3 separate regions of the Homo sapiens genome follow, and regions 1 and 3 are each linked to region 2. Evidence: fine-mapped expression QTL. A gene starts in region 2. Each other region holds a variant in brackets. All regions are shown on one strand. Distances are from middle to middle.

Region 1 (4,238 bases), 37 kb before region 2:
CCAGCTACTCAGGAGGCTGAAGTAGGAGAATCGCTTGAGCCCGGGAAGTCAAGGCTGCAGTGAGCCATGATCATGCCACTGCACTCCAGCCTGGGTGACAGAGCCCAGCATTGAAGATGAGGTGACAGCTAAAGAAGATGAAAAGAAATGGCTGGAGGAAGAGAAGGGAGGGGAGGTGACTTGGGGGCCCCAAGGAGTCTCAGGGAAAATATGGAAGCCATGAGGAGCATCAGGAAGAGAAGACCTAGCCATGCTGGGGTGCTTGGCCTTTGGGAGGTCAGTTATTGCTGAGAAGTGGTGGAGAACAAAGCCACGTTGATGCAGGTGGATGAATGCATTACAAATGAAGGGAAAAAAAAGGAAGTACAGTAAAAAGCCAAAGCCAGTGGAGTCAAGTGATAGCATCAAGACAGGGAACATCTTGGTATATTAAACAGTCACAGGAAGGAGTGGGAGAAAATAAGTCCAGAGAGGAACAGAAAGAAGTCAGAAGCCAGGAGCTGCACTGGGTCAGTGGATGGAAGCCAGCGCCCAGCCCACAGTGGTGTTTGGTGAAACCCTTCACAGGGGGCCACCAACACGGAATGTGCTCGGAGAACTTTGACTCATGAGTGATAGAGAGCAAGGGCAGAGAAGTGAACAGCCCTGCTGACACTGTGACACAGTGCTAGGAGGTGGCCAAGGGAGATCGGTGTGATAAATGGGATTTCACCCAAAGTTCCAGGGTCTAGAAATGTGCTAAGGGCAGGGCGGGGTACAGGGGAGTTGGGGAATCACTGCATTTGGCCATGGGAGGCTCAGAAGGAGGTGAGGATGAAGTCCAAGTAGGAGCTTGGACGTGATCTCAATTCTTCCCTAAAATGTGGGAGTCCTCATCAGCCATTGAGGGTAGCAGTAAGGAAGAGCAGAGAATTCAAGATCTGAAGAGAAATTCTAGTCTTTTGAAATTCCATGGTCACAGTAGTTTTGCCTAATATTTGTCTTAATCCTTTGCAAAGTGCTTTCACTGACAGTTGTGTTCATTTGGGAACAATTAGTCCCCTTCTACAGAATTGGGGGAAACTGAGGTTTAGAAAAGTTCAGTGGCTTACTCAAGATCATACAGCTGGAAATGGCACAGCTGGGACTGAAATTCATGTTTCTGTGATTCAAGGTCCAACCCTGTCTCCCCGACCCAGGGAGCTGTTAAAATCAACCCGACTATCCATTTCTTAGGCACCCCTGTGTGCTAGACACCATGCTAAGGCATTGCCGGTGAATTTCACACTAGCAGACATGTTTGTTGTTTGCCCAACACCTGCTACACTCTCCTGATTTTACTTACTCAAAACAGCCCAGAACTGGAAATCATTCACATGTCCATCAGCAGGTGAATGGAGAAGCAAATTGTGATGTCTCCATACAGTGGAATGTTACTCAGAAATAAAAAGGAACCATTTGCTGGTATACACAAACACATGGATGCATCTCAGAAGATGCGAATATACACAAAAACATGAGTGCATCTCAAAAGATGCTAGTATACACAAAAACATGGGTGCATCTCAAAAATATCACTTGGCATAATGCATCCATGTCTTTGGATGCATCTCCAAAGATCACATACGTAGGCTTCCATTTCTATGAAACTGTAGAAGCAGGTAAATCTAATATGTAGTAGCCGAAAACAGATTAGTGGCACCTGAGATCAGGGTAGGGTGGTGAATTGACTGAGAAAGGATACAAGGGAAATTTGAAGTGATAGAAATGTATCCTATGGCATTATGGTGGTGGTTACATGGGTACACACATCAAACTGTATATGTGAAATTGATGCATTTTATTTTTGAAAATTATACTTCATTAAAGAAGACGATGCAAGGGCCGGGTGCAGTGGCTCACGCCTGTAATCCCAACACTTTGGGAGGCCGAGAATGGTGGATCATGAGGTCAGGAGATGGAGATCATCCTGGCCAACATGGTGAAACCCCGTCTCTACTAAAAAATACAAAAAATTAGCTGGGCGTGGTGGCACATGCCTGTAGTCCCAGCTGCTCGGAAGGCTGAGGCAGGGGAATCACTTGAACCCAGGAGGCGGAGGTTGCAGTGAGCCGAGATCGCGCCACTGCAATCCAGCCTGGGCGACAGAGCAAGACTCCGTCTCAAATAAATAAAT[A/T]AATTAATTAATTAATAAGACAATGCAAAAAATAATTTTAGCATTTGAGATGAATCACAGAGATGAATATAATACAAATATATATTAATAAAGAAATGGAGGAAAGAAAGGCTGAACTTAACATGAAGCCAGAGACAAAGTGAATTCACAAAGCCTACATCGATTGCTTAATTGAGGGAAACTACAAATTGGGCTCTGAGCTTCCCAGAAGCCAAAGCAAAAAAAAGGAAAAGAAATATTCACAATCTTTCATACGTATGAAAAAGAAAATAACAGTGTTCATAAAATTGGATCATAGAGATATGGCTTGTAAGTATTATGAGAACACACAGAAGGAAGTGACTAACTCTGTTTAGGAAAGTGAGGAAATGCTACAGAGATAAGGATTTAAAAAAAAAAAAGGCCAAACAAACAAAAAAACAGTGAATGCTGACTTCAGGGAGGTTGAATGTGAAAGGGGTGGGATTGAGCCACTGAATGGGAAACAATCAGCTGAGCTCATGTCCTAGATGTCCTTCAGCTCTAAAGAGGTGAGATCAGAGGCCGTGGTCTCAGAAGCAGGAAGGAGGCTGGGGCCCAAGGAGGGAACTGTCGTCCCACAGCCAGGAGAGGCATTTAACATATTTACTCACCAGTTTGCCATGGATCTATCCAAATCAGCATCAGACCCCAGCTGGACCATGTCTGGAAGGCCCTTGTCATGTGGGTATTAAATCTTTCACTGTTGGATCATGGGGAGGTGAAGGTCCCAGCGGGTAGGAGCCGTTGGGGAGGTGAAGGGAGTTACTAACCCATAAAGAGCATGTTAGTATTTCAGTAACAATCCAGGCAGATCGCGCCCAGCTATCAGCTGTGGCTCACCCCTGCCCATACCTATGACCTCTCCGCCCAGCTGCCTTCCACAGTCCAAGTCATGCCTGATTATCACCAGCTAATGAGAATTCCTGGCCTTGGTCTACTGCCCACACTCAGGAATTCGCTATTCATGAGAAATGTCAGCTTTACGAAAGTGGGCCCTGTGTGTCAGCTCTTTTTCCCACATTCAGGGTTTACAGCTGACAGTAGTTTGTTTCACATGATTTGCTGATGGGGGAAGAGGCCGTAATCCAGGAAACTGCTCTGGCAAATCACCCCTGGGCCAACAGAGTATTCTGGAACATTCTTTTTATGTTTCCCCTTAGAAATCATTTGGAAAGGGAAGTGTTGAGATTTAAACAAGGCTAGAGAGGAAGATTTCATGCCTGAGGGAATAATGGAGCCAAATGCTGAAGCTGCCACACCTCAGCTTCAGCGATTCTCCTGCCTCAGTCTCCCAAGTAGCTGGGATTACAGGCACCTGCCACCACGCTCCACTAATTTTTGTATTTTTAGTAGAGATGGGGTTTCACTATGTTGGCCAGGTTGGTCTTGAACTCCTGACCTCAGGTGATCTGCCCGCCTTGGCCTCCCAAAGTGCTAGGATTACAGGCATGAGCCACTGCACCTGGCCTCACATGACTTTCTTCTTTTCCTCCTAATCAGACCTCTGGACCAAGAGTTGACAAATTTCATAAATGATGACAAAGGCAGCCTATGGAACGATGACATTCTAGGGTACCAGCCTGGGAAGAAATATCTTAGAATGCAAACTTCCTCAAACACAGGGACCCTGGATTTTAGGTGTTTGACTTGGTGATCTCTGAATGGGGCTGAGCACAGGAAATACTAAAGAGCTACAAATACTCAGAGAGAACAGGAAGGGCTGAGCTCCCGTTGGCCACTTGACATAGTGCCAGCTTTCTTCAGGGTCCTACTCCACCCCTGCCAAGTTTCCAGTGAACCACAACATCATAGAATCAATTACATTCTCGCGACTGTTAATATGGCACCGTGAGGTTCACACAGGCTCTCAACCAAGCCTTTCACCACCCCAGCAAGGAAAATTCAGAACGCTTTACTGAGACTGGGAAACTGATGCCCAGAAAGAGGCCCCAAGACACACAGTTAGTCAAGGGGAAAACAGGCTAGCAGTCAACAGTTTGGTCTTGCAGTCAGAAGAATCTGCATTGAAATCCTTACTGGCTCCCCTCAGTTTGTTACCTTA
Region 2 (4,238 bases):
CCTTGAGTTACAATTCTCACAGGAAGGGTATGGAATCCTGCGAATGGGTTTTCCACTTGTTTGTTTATCCCCCCACACCCGACCCCACCCCTAGAAATGAGTAGCATCTCCTCTCTTCTAGGAAGCTGGCTGGTCTCTTTAAAGGCCTTTTGTTCAGTCCAGTTACTCATATCCTAGACTCAACTGGAAACGGTGACACACGGGCTGTCACCATCTGGATTCAGCTATTATCTGCTCAGAGGAACTGGAAGGGGTTGCACAATGGCCAGACTCACCCCACCTCTAAGAGGCCTGGCTGCTCTGGCACCAGCTAGAAAAATCCCCTGCTGCCCCCTCCTCCCACCCCATCCCATCCCATCCCACCACACACACATACATGCTTGTCCCAGAACAGCTCTTAGCCCCAGTCATGGAGAAGAAAAGGTTTTTTTTTCCTCCCTATTAAACTGGGCTTGATCATGCGTCTGAAATTTCATTCGGGTTGGGCAGTAGGTGGCAGCAGCGAGCCCCGGGACGGGGTCGGGGTGTTGGGAGTGTCAGGTGAGTTGCGGAAAACCCAGAAGCGACTTAACTGGGGGGTGATCCTATCTTTCGGGTGAAAAGGAGCGGCCCGAGGGTGCTCTGGGGTGCCTCAAGCAGGGGTGCCACGCTCGCATAAAGTAGACTGTGGGAACGTTCTGCGTCTACCCGCGCAGGAGGAGGACCCGGCGGATCCTGTTTCTAGGAGCTGTGTCTCCTCCTCCTGGATGGGATCCCTATGTTCAAAGGAAAATCGCTGGCTGGAAAATAAAGTGAATCGAAGCGAGGGTTCCTGGCCGGTGTGGGCTTTTCAACATTTCTACTCCGAGCAGATTCCTCCGCCTCGGGTGGATGACTCTGGGACTGCTCCCTTGGGAGGGCGTGTTCTAGTCTCAGCGCGGATTCAATTCGGAATCCCCAAGGCAGGAGCCGGACACAGTCTTCCAGCCCCCTTACCACCTACAACTGAGCCCGGGTGCCGTGCAAGCCCGGCAAGAGAGCTGCCAGCTGCTCCAAGCTCCTAGGAGGCACCCACTAAAGGGCGTCCTTCCAGGACATTGGCGGGGGAGGGGGGGTGGAGAGCGAGGAGAATGAGAGAAGGGGAATGGCATGGCCCTGGAATCCATTTCAATTCCACAACTTATATGGAACGCCACGCGCTACACTGGGCGCTGAGGAAAGGAACAGATAGAGAAAGCCACTGAACACTGCACTTCCTCTAGGCGCCCCCATTATATCACTCCATGGGAAACCCCTCGATCCACAAAAACGTGAACCTGGTCAAATGGCGTCTTATCTGACCCAATCTACTGATCCGCCCTGTGCCCAGCCCAAGCGTTGGCCGGACCCCAAGCACCTTTGCCTACCACCCCGTCCCGCGCCCCCGACCCCAGCCGGGTCCTGGCCCGGGAGCGCCTACCTTGCAGCGCAGCTCGCGTCCAGTGTGGATGCACAGCGCCCGGGACACATGCTCGCGCTCGGCTAGGGGCAGCAGCAGGTAGTCGGCGATGCGGCTGGGCCCCGGCGCGCTCCCGGAGCCTCCGCCGGCCCCCGGAGCGGCAGGCGGGGGCTGCGGGCTGCAGGGCGAGCCGGGGGGGCTGAGGTAGTCCGGGGGGCTGGAGCACTCGGAGAGGCGCGGGCACTTGGCCGCCACAGCCGCCGCGTCGTCGGCGTCCAGCAGGCGTTTGGCCGGGACGCCTCGGGTGGCTGGGAAGAGCAGGGCCGGGCCGCGGGGCTGCGAGGCGCCGCTCATGGCAGAGCGCACCGGACCGACCCGCATCCCGTCCTGGGCCGGGGTGGCCCCGGCTTTTTAAGTCCCGGGATCCGCGCGGGAAGACGCTGCGGGTTTGGTGCCGGCTCCGCGACTTCTTCCAGCCGGCGGGATGGAGTTTGCAGACTGGTCTTGGCTCGGCCCCCACGAGGGGCAAAGCAGGAGCCACTCCCCGGCGCTCGCGTTGCACGCGGGGACCACGCTGGCTGTGCGTCCGGGAGGCGGAGGCCGGCTCGAGTCCCCGGACCCCCGCAGGCAAGGGCTCCCGGAGCCTCGCTGGGGGCGGCCGCCACTATTGTTGCCGAGGCTGCCGATAGTCCGGGAGGCAGAGGCGGCGGCGGCAGCGGTCAGCGATCCCGGGGTCCCGAGCCGCGAGGACAGGATTCAGCAGGCTCGGCGGAGCCACGAAGCAAATGCACTTCCCAAAGCGATGAGTCTCCAGCAAAAGCCGGGGGAACTTTTTCGCGGCGCTCGGGATCCTGAGCGCTCCTGGGCTCCGGGCGTGTATGAGAGCGAGCGAGACGCGCTCAGAGAGAGTGACTGTGAGTGAGTGTGAGCGCTGCACCGATCCCGGCCAGTGCACTCCTCCTTCTCCTTTTCCTCCACCTCCTCCGCCTCCTGGTGACTCACGCTGTATACACACACACTCACAGGCCGGGCTGTGTAAACAGTTGGGAAGCCGGGTTGTGCAATGAGGTGGCTGCGACGACTCCGGCCCCGCCGCCCAGCGAGCAGTCTCCGGAGCGGAGGGAGGAGACTGGGGGAAGGGGAGAGGGAGTAGGAGGTGGGGGGAATGGGGGTGGACTTAGGGCTGGGGATGCTCCGGGCAGCGCGCGCTCGGGCGCAGGTGGTGCGTCCCGGGCCGGCCTGGACGCGCGCACACGCCCCCAGGGCTGGGAGGGGCTGGGCAGGAGGCGGCGCGCGCGCCCTCCCGCAGGCCCCCAGCTCAGCGGAGAAGCCGAAGGAGGGGGCGGAGGAAAAGTTCCCGTGACGTAAGGGCCCGGGGAAGTGGGCGGGAGGGACGGGGCTGCGGGGAGCGAAGCGACCGCTGATTGGTGCGCGCGCCTCATTCACAGTAAGCACAATGGGCTGCGGGCGCGAGGCGGGAGCGCGCACCACGGTTCTCTGCACCCGCCGCTCGCTGCAGCCCCGCGGCGACGCCTTTCGCCCCGGGGATCCCCCCACCGCCCAGCGCCTGGGGAGCTCCGGTTGGAGCCGTGGGCGCCGCCGAGGCCCGGCTGCAGCCGGAGGAAGGAGGGGGATAGGGAGGTGATGAATTCCAGAATCAGTCATTCACCCCCACGCGGTAGTTCCGGGGAAGACCTGTGCGTGGTAGTGGATGTGGCTTTTTTTTTTCCCTTTTCCTGCCCCCTCCCAGCTCTAATCCCCAGCGTCTGTTCGCTTCCACAAATAGAACCTTCTGTTGGAGGAAATAAAAGCAAACACTGGGCCTTCTGCGCTGCCTCCACCTCCACGCCCCCCCAACCCCCCCGCGCCTGCCGCCCGCCCGGATTGCACGGAAATAGCTTCTCCAGGCTCCCGGGCCGCCCCTTCGCGGTGACTCGCAGAAAGAGCTTCCTGAGCCAGGGCCGGTGGGAAACAAAGGATGTGGGGAGCGGGCGGAAGGGGCCCACGTGGCTGCCGCCGGATTCCTACTCCCTCCCCAGCCTCCACACGCGCCGCAGGGTCTAGGGCCTGAGTGCCAACCTGGGTAGGTGGGTAGGCTGGTGGAAGTCATTCTGGCCACTGCCAGAGATACCGCCTGCACCCGGGCAGCCCTGCCTGGTGGTGCGCATGCATTCATTCCGTGTGATTTGGAAGAGCATCAAAGTTGCGCGTGAAACAACTTGGAATCTGTCATTTTTCTTTCTTGAGTGAACCAGGTCAGTTTGGAGTCCCTGGGCACCCAACAATATAACTATTATTAGAGAGCCCTTACTTGTCCTTCTGCTAAATACTTAATTTTCTAAAACCAGGTCGAGCCCCAGGAATAAATCATTTTCCTTATTAATTCTCCATTCATTCAACAAATACTAATTAAGCATCTACCAAGAGCTAAACGCTGGGAATTAGAAGGTGAAAATTAAAATAATAATAATAGCTAACATGAATCGAGGCCTACAATGTGTCGGACACTGTTCTTAGCACTTTATATGTATTACTTCAGTTTTCCAACCACACTATGGGGTTATTTTTTGCCCCATTTCACAGGGAAGAAACTGAAGCCTTAGAAGGATGAAGTTAGGCCAAGCGTGGTGGCTCACGCCTGTAATCCCAGCACTTTGGGAGGCTGAGGTGGGCAGATCACCTGAGGTCAGGAGTTCAAGACCAATCTGGCCAACATGGTGAAACCCCGTCTCTACTACAAGTACAAAAATTAGCTGGGTGTGGTGGCGCGCGCCTGTAATCCCAGCTGCTGGGGAGGCTGAGGTGGGAGAATCACTTGAAC
Region 3 (4,238 bases), 180 kb before region 2:
ATCTGTTACACGTCTGCCTCCCTCTTGTTAGACTGTAAGCCCCTTGAAGATGGGTTTCTATATCCTATTCATCATTGTATCTCCAGTTCCTATAGTACCTGGAACAGGAAACAGTCGATTTTAACTCCTGAAGAGCTCACAAATCCATCTATGTCCAGCACCACCACCTCTACCTGGGTCCCACGTATTGGCAGCTCTTGCCCAGCCCACATCTATAGCCTTCTGACTTGTCTCTTTGCCACCACTCTAACCTCCTTCCAATCCAGTCTCAACTCAACAGCCAGAGGGATCTTTTACAAATACAAACTAAATAATATGAATACCTCATCCCTACCACTTCAAATTAGAATTCTCTAGTGGATTCCCTGCCCCCTATCATTCAACCCCGCTCTCCTAAAATGACCCCTGGCCCCTCTAACCCCATCTCACATGTCCTTCCCCCTTGCCCTCTGCATGCTCACCCAACTAAAATGTCAGTTCCCCCATAGGGCCTTTGCACTCGCTGTTCCCATTGCCTGGAATGCTCTTCCATCCTCACTTCACTAGCTCACTGTCACTGCCTTTCAGAACGCAACTCAGACATCACTTTTAAGTGGCTTGAGGAAGCCTTCCCTGACTCCCAAGTTGAGATCATTTTTTTCTTTATTACTCAGTTTCCCCAAAGCTGGATTTGCTTCCTTCAGATAACTTATCTCAGTGTGTAGCTGCACATTCATGACCGTGACTCTGATTACTATCAGTCTTCCCTGCTGGACTCCAAACGTTAGGAGCTCCTGGGCTATGTCTGCTTGGACTCACCATTGCATCCCCAGCAGCTGGCACAGGAGGAGCACTCAGAACAAGTACCCAGTAAGTACACAGGGAATCCAGAATAAATATATCAATAGGAATATTGATTATCCCAATGTTTGTGGAATCCTATAGGGGCTCCAGTGCTTTGTCAGCCCCCCCAGATCCCCCTTGCTGAGGCGGTGATTAATTACCACGTCTTGGAAATAAGTTCACATAAATCAGAGCGGAAGAATAAGTCAGATGCAGAAGAGCACCCAGCATCTTGCAGGGCAGGTTGGAGCCTCCACCAATATAGGGCAATTGGGCAAAAAGGGAAGCCTAGGGACACGGACACTCCTGTCATGATTCTGCTCAGTGTCGGTCCCAGGCAGCATCTAGCAAGACACTGGGGGTCAACAATAGCAAGAAAGTCCAAGAATTTTGGCATACAGAACCAACATGGCACAGCCAGGAGCAATCCAGAATTGGCATCGGAAGCCCTGGTTCAACCTCCAGCTCTGCGTCTTTACTGGATTTGGGAAAAATAACCTCTCTGTGTCCTGTTTCATCATCTGTAAAATAAAAACAAAAATAAATCCTTCTCAGCATAAATATAAAACCCTAAATGAGTTTACATGAAAGGATGTTGCAATAAGAGCTAACACTCAGGGTGTGCCAGAAGTGGCTCTAAACATTTCATAGGCTTTAGCTCATTGAATTCCCACCGCATCTTTATAAGGCAGGTCCTACTACTATCCCCATTTCACAGATGAGGAACCCAAGGCTCAGAAATCTCAGAAACTTTCCCAAGGTTAAGTTTCCCAAGAAATCTCAGAAACTTTCCTGCTAGGAGGATCTGGATCTGGGGCTTGAGTTCATGCTCTTTTGTTCCAGAGCCCGTGCTTACTCAAGGACACTCAACAAACCCCAAGGTGATGTTATGGTTAAGGCTCTCAGCCCTCCCCAGGGTCACGCATGCCTCCCCCTTCCTTCCTGTTGCACTTGCCTAGCTAAACGGCAAAACAGAGGCCTGTGTCCTGTGCTTGGCTCTGCCATTTCCTCTCCACCTGACCTTGAGCTAGCAAGGCTACCTTTCTGAAACCCAGGGTACCCCTTTCCATAAGATGGATCTACTAATCCACACCACGTTCACAGGATCATCATGGGGAATAACAGACACGGTCGTAATAGCACATTGTAAGTTGCCAAGCAACATTGAACTTGAAGGGACTCCAGGGCAGGGCACTGCCAGGCTTGAAGAATGTGGACACTAAAGGGCCCAAGTGCCC[C/G]TTGGGGAAGAGCTCTTACAGAGCAGGCTGCCCCCGCCCAGAGGCCACCTTGTTTACGCAATGATCAACTCATTCTGAAACCCAAGAGGCTGCCATCTGCCCTCAGAGCAGGCCCAGACGCTGCTTTCCTGTTTGCTTCATTGGCTTCAGATCGGGGTGTTTTTTTTTTTTATTTGAAAAAAAAAAAAAAAAGCTTTTGGCAGGAGATGTCCCTAAAATTTTAAGTGGTTTGTTTTTCTTTTTTCCCTGCTCCCCCAGCCCAAAGCCTACCCCTGAGTTTTTCCTTCTTTGATTGCATGTAACCTCAAACAATGGCATCATTTACAGACTCCAAGCAGCCTCCTGCCATGGGTCCCACGCTGAGCTCTGCTTTCTAAATCATTGGCTGCTGTCACCCTGAGTCTGAAACCGCAGCTCTCCTTTGAGGTTGGGTCATGTGGCATCTGAGGGCTCCATAGTCTTGGAGTGCCAGTGTAAGCTGACCAGGATTCTGATTTTGTATTTTAAACTCAACCGTTGTTATTCAGTGCTGGTGGCACTTCTTCCCCTCTCTTCCCAATGTGTCTCCAAGGTTCTCAGCATTCTGTTCAATGGGTCTAACCCTCACACTCCTGACTGTTTCCCGGGAGACTTGATAATAGGGCTGGCCAATGTCTGCCGCACTTAGAGGTGTAGAGAGCCAGGGTCAAGGAGGATATTGACATGTATAGTATGTGGTTTCTGCCCTCCTGAATTCCCCAGACTAATCAGGACACTTCATGTTAAGACAATAATTTTGGAGAAGCACATTAGAGTCTATCAGTCATTTACATTAGAGTATGAATTGGCCTTTTTGGCAGATCCAAAAGCATTTGTTGTGAGATGGTGAAGAGGAAGATAACACTTTGCAAGACAAAACACCACAGAAAGTAAAACGGGATAGAAATAGAGGGTGGGCACACACTGAAAATGAACTTCACTTTTGTCCTTGAAGTTGCCTTGTGCTAGAACCATGCCAATGCTTTATTCCAAAAGGAAGTTAACTTCTAAGAGACTACCACACTGTTTATGAGATTTATTCCTGATTTACTTTATTTAACACATTTTATATAGTGCTTCTATGTGTTTAGGGATTAGTCAAATACAGACGAATTTAATCCTCACAACATCATTAGATAAGTTTTATTAGAATCTTATCTTAAAGATGAGGAAACTGAGGCACAGAAAAATAGTTTGCCCAAAGTCACGCAGCTTCTCAGTGACAGAGTTGGAACTCACATGCAGACAGTCTGGCTCCAAAATCCATGCTACGAATTTCTGTATTGTAATAGCAAAAGGATACAAAGCCATTTGTATGATTTTATCCTTTTTGGACCAGTAAATGAATAAACTCCTGTGATGAGTAAACCGTTTTCAACAATCAGCTTAAAGAAACCTCAACTTAAAAAGCATTACCAAGACTGTCAGAACCAGTAATCTGAGGCTGACTTATGAACTTGATGACAACATTCTTTAATTCACCTTTTTGACTCATTCAATAAGTATTACATGAAGCACCTCCTATGCCTGGGGCCAGTCACTGAGGATACAATTGTTCACAAGACAGACCTGGTCCTTCCGGCCTAAGGCGCACCGTCTGAATAGCAGTTGGAGCCCCAGCAGGGGTTGCTGGTGCATTCAGGAGTCAGGTGGCAGGTGTGGGCCAGCTCCTGTGGGAGGACAAGCTGCACCTAACTCAGACCAGGGGACTGGGGGCAGGTTCAGAGCAGTGACATCTAAGCTGAGGCCTGACAAAGGAGGAAGATTCAGTCAGATGCCAAGGCAGGGGGAGAATGAACCAGGAAGTGGAAAGAGCACGTGCAAAGTCCCAGAGGTGCCAAACAGCCTGGGCTGCAAGAAAAACAGAAAGTTGAGTGAGGCTGATGTGCAGAATGTGGGCAGGTGATCAGTGGAGGCTAAAGATGGCCTGACATCAGGGCTGGATGCCATTGGTCTATGTGGACCCTGATACAGATATTAGATTTCTGCCGGTGTCAAAGAGAAGTGGGTCGGGGAAGCCTGAGACTCTGATATAACATCACGTGACAGATAACAGTCCCTAAAGGAAATGAAAGTATTTTACCTCCAAATATATTTCTTGGACATATTTTGAAATGACCCTGCAAAGCCACCCGTTGTGGGGAAAATTTACATTCTGCA

Direction of the effects. Positions count from the first base shown, and alleles are read on the strand shown. Sizes are in standard deviations (SD) of each study's normalised expression. Not every link is listed here.
For the expression in thyroid of the gene that starts at base 2,343 in region 2, C is the low allele of the variant in region 3 and G is the other (small effect, 0.18 SD a copy in GTEx).

What was found. PIP is the estimated chance that this variant, and not a neighbour inherited with it, causes the effect.
Region 1: its variant is the best candidate, but not a certain one, in a credible set for the expression of TRIB1 in whole blood (INTERVAL, PIP 0.86).
Region 3: its variant is the best candidate, but not a certain one, in a credible set for the expression of TRIB1 in thyroid (GTEx, PIP 0.62).

What each region holds. Positions count from the first base shown.
Region 1 is chr8:125,465,583-125,469,820 of GRCh38, reverse strand. It overlaps TRIB1AL (TRIB1 associated lncRNA), which reads right to left and starts at 3,016. Exons shown (of 4, transcript NR_186610.1): 1 at 2,788-3,016. The variant A/T (reference allele first, on the strand shown) is at 2,156.
Region 2 is chr8:125,428,463-125,432,700 of GRCh38, reverse strand. It overlaps TRIB1 (tribbles pseudokinase 1), which reads right to left and starts at 2,343. Exons shown (of 3, transcript NM_025195.4): 1 at 1,439-2,343. The coding sequence starts at 1,798. RefSeq lists enhancers at 581-670, 2,141-2,190 and silencers at 1,481-1,820, 2,551-3,170.
Region 3 is chr8:125,606,008-125,610,245 of GRCh38, reverse strand. It overlaps LINC02964 (long intergenic non-protein coding RNA 2964), which reads right to left. Exons shown (of 7, transcript XR_001746072.2): 3 at 799-1,343. Among named protein-coding and RNA genes, the nearest start is that of LINC02964, 88 kb to the right of the region's middle. RefSeq lists enhancers at 1,846-2,225, 4,099-4,148. The variant C/G (reference allele first, on the strand shown) is at 2,061.